2 linked regions of the Homo sapiens genome follow. The protein of the gene in region 1 interacts with the protein of each later gene in a pairwise test. Each region holds a gene or a part of one and is shown in the gene's direction. Other genes may lie near its edges.

Evidence for each region. Proteins that work in one complex are often made in the same cells at the same time.
Region 2: the proteins of ADORA2B (region 1) and TPD52L2 interact in a two-hybrid assay, tested with the Homo sapiens proteins (one large-scale study listed by BioGRID and IntAct).

Annotation. Positions count from the first base shown.
Region 1 is NC_000017.11:15,972,462-15,976,370, forward strand, and holds the end of ADORA2B (adenosine receptor A2b), read left to right. Parts: intron 1-2,217; coding exon 2,218-2,881; 3' UTR 2,882-3,285; downstream 3,286-3,909. UniProt on the Homo sapiens protein: Receptor for adenosine. The activity of this receptor is mediated by G proteins which activate adenylyl cyclase.
Region 2 is NC_000020.11:63,871,538-63,875,269, forward strand, and holds part of TPD52L2 (tumor protein D54), read left to right. Parts: intron 1-2,130; coding exon 2,131-2,279; intron 2,280-3,732.

The DNA of each region.
Region 1 (3,909 bases):
TGTTAATAACAAAATGTGTACCTTTGCTATAAACCATGGATAGACTAGTGTATAGCAAAATGTCTAAAAGGGATATTATGGCATCTGTTGCTCTTATAAGGTCACTTCCTTTCTTGGTCACCTCTTAGGCAGAGGTGGCCGCTCCCATTCTCTTGCCCCATAACTCACTTGTCATAGAGCCTGCTTATCTGATACATGTTGTATCTCTCAACTGGATACTGGTCAAACCTCTTAAGGACTAGGATCTTGTCCCTTTGTATTGGTATCCCCAGTAGTGGTTTCTAGTATTTTTTTGTTGTTTGTTTTTTTGAGATAAGGTCTTGCTCTGTCACCCAGGCTGGAGTGCAGTGGTGCAATCACAGCTCACTGCAGCCTCAACCTCCTGGGCTCAAGTGATCCTGACTCTCCCACTTCATTCTCCCGAAATAGCTGGAACCACAGATATACACCACCGTGCCCGGCTAAGTTTTGTACTTTTTTGTAGAGATGGAGTTTCACCATGTTGCCCAGGCTGGTCTCCAACTTGTGATCTAATGGCTTGAAGATGACCAAAAAATTTAATATTTGCTATTTCCCAATTTTTATCAACTCTGCTGCTAGTATTTCTCAGTAGACAGGGGCACTGCTAGACTCTTGTTCTCCAGCAGTCTGCAGAGGTATTCAGAAATGATTCTGCCCATAGTCCTAGGCAAATGTCTTGTGGTGTTTGTGGGAAGCCAGAAAGATCCTTGCCTGGAGCCACAGGTGGTGCTGACTCCAGTGCTTACTGCCTCAGGCCTTTGTTCAAGTGTCACCTTATCCATGATGTCAGCCTCTTTAAAACTACAGTCCTGCCCATCCTGATCTTTCTTACTCTGCTTTTTCATGTTTCATACCACATATATCTCCATACTGTTTATTATTATGTTTACCCCTGCTAGATCTGAGTCTGTTAAAATTTAGTAGGGATCTCTGTGTGTTCTGTTCACTGATGTATCTCAAGCACTTAGAACAGGGTTCCTCAACCCCTGGGCTGCAGACTAGTACTGGTCCGTGGCCTGTTAGGAACTGGGCCACACAGCAGAAGGTGAGCAGGCAGGCGAGCATTACTGCCTGAGCTCTGCATCCTGTCAGATCAGCAGCATTCGATTCTCATAGGAGCTAACCCTATTGTGAACTGTGCACGCAGGGGATCTACGCTGTGCGCTCCTTATGAGAATCTAATGCATCACCCCCCGCCCCTGGTCTGTGGAAACATTGTCTTCCATGAAGCTGGTCCCTGGTGCCAGAAAGGTTGGGGACCACTGACCTAGAACAATGCCTTACAGAAGACCTAGACTCAAAGAGCGGTACCTAGGTAGGTAGGAAGTATAGGAAGTCGATCGGTTTTTGGAAACTGTGACTTGAAGCAAAATGATGCACTGTATAACAAAGCCAATTTTACCACAGTTGATACTGTTAAAAGAAAAACTTCGGCTGAATTCAATTTAAAAGAGCTTAATTGAGCAAAGAATGATTCACAAATTGTGCAGCCTGCTGAGCCAAAGCAGGCTCAGAGACTCCAGTGCAGTCACGTGGTGGAAGATAATTTATGGACAGAAAAAAGAAAGTGATGGACAGAAAAAGGAAAAGTGACGTACAGAAAATGGAAGTGAGGAACAGAAACAGCTGGATTGGTTATAGCTCAGCATTTGCCCTTTTTGAACAGGGTTCGAACAGTTGGCCACATTTGATTGGCCAAAAGTCGAGGATTGGCATGAGTGCAGGCTATAGTCTGTTTACACGTCCACTTGTTGTAGTCCACGATGTACAGAGAAACCTTTAGGCCAAATTTAAAATATGTAAGGAGGCAGCTTTAGGCTAAACTTGATTTAACAATATAAACAAGAGTTAACTTCCTATGACATATACTTCAAGTCACAGTTTGAGAACCCACCGAGGACATTGAGGACTTACAGTACTCCCTTAAGGCTTCCCCACCTCTTGTCATTGGCCATCCTGTGTCACTAAACAGAAAGGAGTTGCTAAGTCAAGAATGAAGATCTTACTGAGTTTTCTAGAGCAAAGCTGCTCATCCCTGCTTGCATGTCTTTAGTATTGAGGGTAAAGGCCTTAGTGCCCTGGAAGGTGAACTTTAGAGGTTGTTAAAGGGTCATGGAAAAAAGAGGAGGTGGGGTCTTGGATTGTGGTTGCAGAGCGCTATAAACTGACCGTAACAGATGGTATTCTTTTAAACAGGTATAAAAGTTTGGTCACGGGGACCCGAGCAAGAGGGGTCATTGCTGTCCTCTGGGTCCTTGCCTTTGGCATCGGATTGACTCCATTCCTGGGGTGGAACAGTAAAGACAGTGCCACCAACAACTGCACAGAACCCTGGGATGGAACCACGAATGAAAGCTGCTGCCTTGTGAAGTGTCTCTTTGAGAATGTGGTCCCCATGAGCTACATGGTATATTTCAATTTCTTTGGGTGTGTTCTGCCCCCACTGCTTATAATGCTGGTGATCTACATTAAGATCTTCCTGGTGGCCTGCAGGCAGCTTCAGCGCACTGAGCTGATGGACCACTCGAGGACCACCCTCCAGCGGGAGATCCATGCAGCCAAGTCACTGGCCATGATTGTGGGGATTTTTGCCCTGTGCTGGTTACCTGTGCATGCTGTTAACTGTGTCACTCTTTTCCAGCCAGCTCAGGGTAAAAATAAGCCCAAGTGGGCAATGAATATGGCCATTCTTCTGTCACATGCCAATTCAGTTGTCAATCCCATTGTCTATGCTTACCGGAACCGAGACTTCCGCTACACTTTTCACAAAATTATCTCCAGGTATCTTCTCTGCCAAGCAGATGTCAAGAGTGGGAATGGTCAGGCTGGGGTACAGCCTGCTCTCGGTGTGGGCCTATGATCTAGGCTCTCGCCTCTTCCAGGAGAAGATACAAATCCACAAGAAACAAAGAGGACACGGCTGGTTTTCATTGTGAAAGATAGCTACACCTCACAAGGAAATGGACTGCCTCTCTTGAGCACTTCCCTGGAGCTACCACGTATCTAGCTAATATGTATGTGTCAGTAGTAGGCTCCAAGGATTGACAAATATATTTATGATCTATTCAGCTGCTTTTACTGTGTGGATTATGCCAACAGCTTGAATGGATTCTAACAGACTCTTTTGTTTTTAAAAGTCTGCCTTGTTTATGGTGGAAAATTACTGAAACTATTTTACTGTGAAACAGTGTGAACTATTATAATGCAAATACTTTTTAACTTAGAGGCAATGGAAAAATAAAAGTTGACTGTACTAAAAATGTATACTTGTTGCCAGGAAGGTGACCTCAAAAATTAAAAGTATAATTATTCGGCCGGGCATGGTGGCTCACACCTGTAATTCCAGCACTTTGGGAGGCCAAGGCAGGCGGATCACGAGGTCAGGAGTTCAAAACCAGCCTGTCCAATATAGTGAAACCCCGTCCCTACTAAAAAATACAAAAATTAGCTGGGTATGTGGCATGTGCCAGCTACTCAGGAGACTGAGGCAGGAGAATCATGTGAACTTGGGAGGCGGAGGCTGCAGTGAGCCCAGATGGCATCACTGTACTCCAGCCTGGGTGACAGAGTGAGACTCTGTCTCAGAAAAAAAAAAAAAAAAAAAAAAAAAAAAAAAATATATATATATATATATATATATATATATATATATATATATAAATAAAGTATTCAATCAAGAAACTGCTGTATTAATTTAGGGAAATGATTGATTGATAGTCTCATAAGTCAAATTTTCATCACATAATTTTAAGCTCCATTCTTTTCCATATACAGAAAACTACCCGTGGGGAAGAAACTGGTGAAATGGGATCCCTCCTCTACCAAATTCTGCCTTCTAGAGCTAGATAGATAGATAGGGAATTTTGCTTCTCTCCAAATTTCAAGTTT
Region 2 (3,732 bases), on another chromosome or scaffold:
CGGAGTTTCACCACGTTGGCCAGGTTGGTCTCGAACTCCAGACCTCAGGTAATCTGCCTGCCTCAGCCTCCCATAGTGCTGGGATTACACGCAAGAAAGAGTTTTTTTTTTTTTTTGAGACTTTTTGCTCTTGTTGCCCAGGCTGGAGTGGAATGGTGCGATCTTGGCTCACTGCAGCCTCTGCCTCCCAGGTTCAAGTGATTCTCCTGTCTCAGCCTCCCGAGTACCTGGGGTTACAGGTGCATGCCACCACGCCTGGCTAATTTTTGTATTTTTGGTAGAGACGGCCTTTCATCATATTGGTCAGGCTGGTCTCGGACTCCTGACCTCAGGTGATCTGCCCGCCTCGGCCTCCCAAAGTGCTGGGATTACAGGCATGAGCTATCGTACCCGGCCAAGAAAGAGAATTTTTAAAGAGAAGCTAGTCATATATGAGCTGAAGATACTGAGAACTCATTCTAAAGTGGTAAAGCTTTGAATGATGCCCCTTTCAGAGGTCATGTTCTTTTTTTTTTTTTTTTTTTTTAAAGACCTGAGAAAGTTCAAGTCTTCATGATCAGGAATCTTTCTGTTGCTCAGTTCTAACTACGTTAAGCACAAAAGATAATTTACCTTTTGGTTCGTGTAACTGACTCTTGCCAAGGTTTGGAACTGACCTCAGGAACACAAGTGTTTTCTTAAGGGTGTTTTTTTCTGTCACCTGTGTCACTGTCCATCTGCCTCCTCCTCTCTGCATATGGAATTCTATGAGTGCAGACGGTGCCCGGCTGCCAACAGTTCCAGCTTCTATTGTCCAAGCCCAGACTGAGAGCCCTGAGGGAAAAGGATCCTCACTGTTTTTTGTTTGTTTGTTTGTTTTTGAAACAGTCTCGGTCTGTCACCTAGGCTGGAGTGCAGTGGCATGATCTCGGCTCACTGCAACCTCTGTCTCCTGGGTTCAAACAGTTTTCCTGCCTCAGCCTCCCGAGTAGCTGGGGTTACAGGCGTGCACCACCATACCTGGCTAATTTTTGTATTTTTAGTAGAGACGGGGTTTTGTCATGTTGGCCAGGCTGGTCTCAAACTCCTGACCTCAGATAATCTGCCTGCCTTGGCCTCACAAAGTGCTGGGATTACAGGCGTGAGCCACTGTGCCCGGCCAGGGTCTTCACCATTTTTTTGTTGTTGTTGTTTTGTTTTGTTTGAGATGGAGTCTCGCTCTGTCACCCAGGCTGGAGTGCAGTGGCACAATCTTGGCTCACCCGCAAGCTCTGCCTCCTGGATTCACACCATTCTCCTGCCTCAGCCTCCCGAGTAGCTGGGACTACAGGTGCCCGCCACCGTGCCTGGCTAATTTTTTGTATTTTTTAGTAGAGACAGGGTTTCGCTGTGTTAACTGTGTTAGCCAGGATGGTCTCGATCTCCTGACCTCGTGATCCGCCCGCCTTGGCCTCCCAGAGTGCTGGGATTACAGGCATGCGCCACTGCGCCCGGCCGGTCTTCACCTTTTTAATACCATGCCCAGTCCTAGTAAAGAGCTCGGACAAACCTGGCATGGTCATCCTGGGCCATTCCTCATGACCACAAATGGACATGGTGATTGGTAGCTCTCCCAGAACCATTTAGTTGTGGGGCATGGGATAGTTCCCTGGAGTCAAGTTCCTAGTACCAGATAAAAACAAATGTCTGCTGGCTGGGCGCGGTGGCTCACGCCTGTAATCCCAGCACTTTGGGAGGCTGAGGTGGGAGGATCACCTGAGGTTGGGAGTTTGAGACGAGCCTGACCAACATGGTGAAACCCCATCTCTACTAAAAATACAAAATTAGCCGGGCAGGGTGGCACACGCCTGTAATCCCAGCTACTTGGGAGGCTGAGGCAGGAGAATCACTTGAATCTGAAAGGCAGAGGTTGCGGTGAGCCGAGGTCGTGCCATTGCACTCCAGCCTGGGCGACGAGCGAAACTCCATCTCAAAAAAAAAAAAAAACCAAAACCCAAAAATCAGATGTCTGCTGTAGATGCTGTTATTCCTAGGACGAGTTAATGCTTTGGTAAGCGGAAAGTTCTTGTGTAACTCATGGCACTGTGCATGAGGATGTTAGTCACTTCCTGCAGTAGTGATGGCTCATCATGTCAACTGCATGCTTTGCAGGTGGAAGAGGAAATTGTCACTCTGCGCCAGGTCCTGGCAGCCAAGGAGAGGCACTGTGGAGAGCTCAAGAGGAGGCTGGGCCTCTCCACCCTGGGGGAGCTGAAACAGAACCTGTCCAGGAGCTGGCATGACGTGCAGGTCTCTAGCGCGTAGGTACCTGCCCCAGGCGCACCCCTGGGGGCTGAAGAGAACGGGCACCACACGTGCCCCGGCATGTGGGGGGGCGTCGTCATGCCCAGGGACGAGTTGCAGCCGTGGAGTTGAGTGGCCTGTTTGGAAGGATCCAGAGAGAGGCTCTGAGCCCTTGGCCCAGCGACTGTGCCTTGTTTGTTCAAAAAGCTTGGTGTCTACATGTGTTTTATTTATTTTTAAGTTTTTGTGTACTTTATTATTATTTTTTTTGAGACAGAGTCTCACTCTGTCGCCCAGGCTGGAGTGTAGTGGCGTGATCTTAGCTCGCTGCAACCTCTGCCCCCCGGGTTCAAGCGATTCTCCTGCCTCAGCCTCCCAAGTAGCTGGGATTACAGGCGCCTCCCACCGCGCCCGGCTGATTTTTTTTTTTGTGTGTGTGTGTGTGTGTGTGTGTGTGTTTTTAGTAGAGATGGGGTTTCACCATGTTGGCCAGGCTGGTCTTGAACTCCTGACCTTGTGATCCACCCACCTCAGCCTCCCAAAGTGCTGGCCACCACGCTGGCCTTTTTTTTTTTTTTATTATTATTCTTTTTTGAGATGGTTTCGCTCTGTCACCCAGGCTGGAGTGCAGTGGCGCAATCATGATTCACTGCAACCTCAACCTCCTGGGTTCAAGCAATCCTCCCAACTCAACCCCCCTCGTAGCTGGGATGACAGGCGTGCGCCACCATGCCTGGCTAATTTTTTCACGTTTTATAGAGACAGGGTCTTGCTTTGCTACCTAGGCTGGTCTCAAATTTCTGGGCTCAAGCAATCCTCTTGTTTTGGCCTCCTAAAATGCTTGGGATTACACGTGTGAGCCACCACATCCGGCTTATATACGTGTTCTAAAAAGGCAGACACACTGGCTAGTTGTCCTGGTGGAAAATGATAGGAAGACTGTTTCAGGGTCCAGACTTGAGAGAGCACTGATCAGGTCCTTGGCAAGAGCGGTTTTTCTGTGGTCCTTGTTGTGGGTGTGGCATGGTCACAGCCTCTGACCCAGATATGGCCATATGGGCCGGGCATGGTGGCTCATGCCTACAATCCCAGCACTTTGGGAGGCTGAGGCGGGTGTATCACTTGAGGTTAGGAGTTCAAGACTAGCCTGACCAACATGGAGAAACCCTGTCTCTACTAAAAAATAAAAAAATTTAGCTGGGCGTGGTGGTGCGCACCTGTGATCTCGGCTACTAGGGAGGCTGAGGCAGGAGAATCTCTTTAACCCGGGAGGCGGAGGTTGCAGTGAGCCAAAATTATGCCACTGCCCTCCAGCCTGGGTGACAGAGCAAGACTCTGTCTCAAAAAAAAAAAATATATATATATATATATTTATATATAGGACCATATGGTCCCACAACCCTAGGGACTCTGACCCTCCCCGATGACGACGTGGTCCTACATGACGACGTGGTCCTATAACCCTGGGAC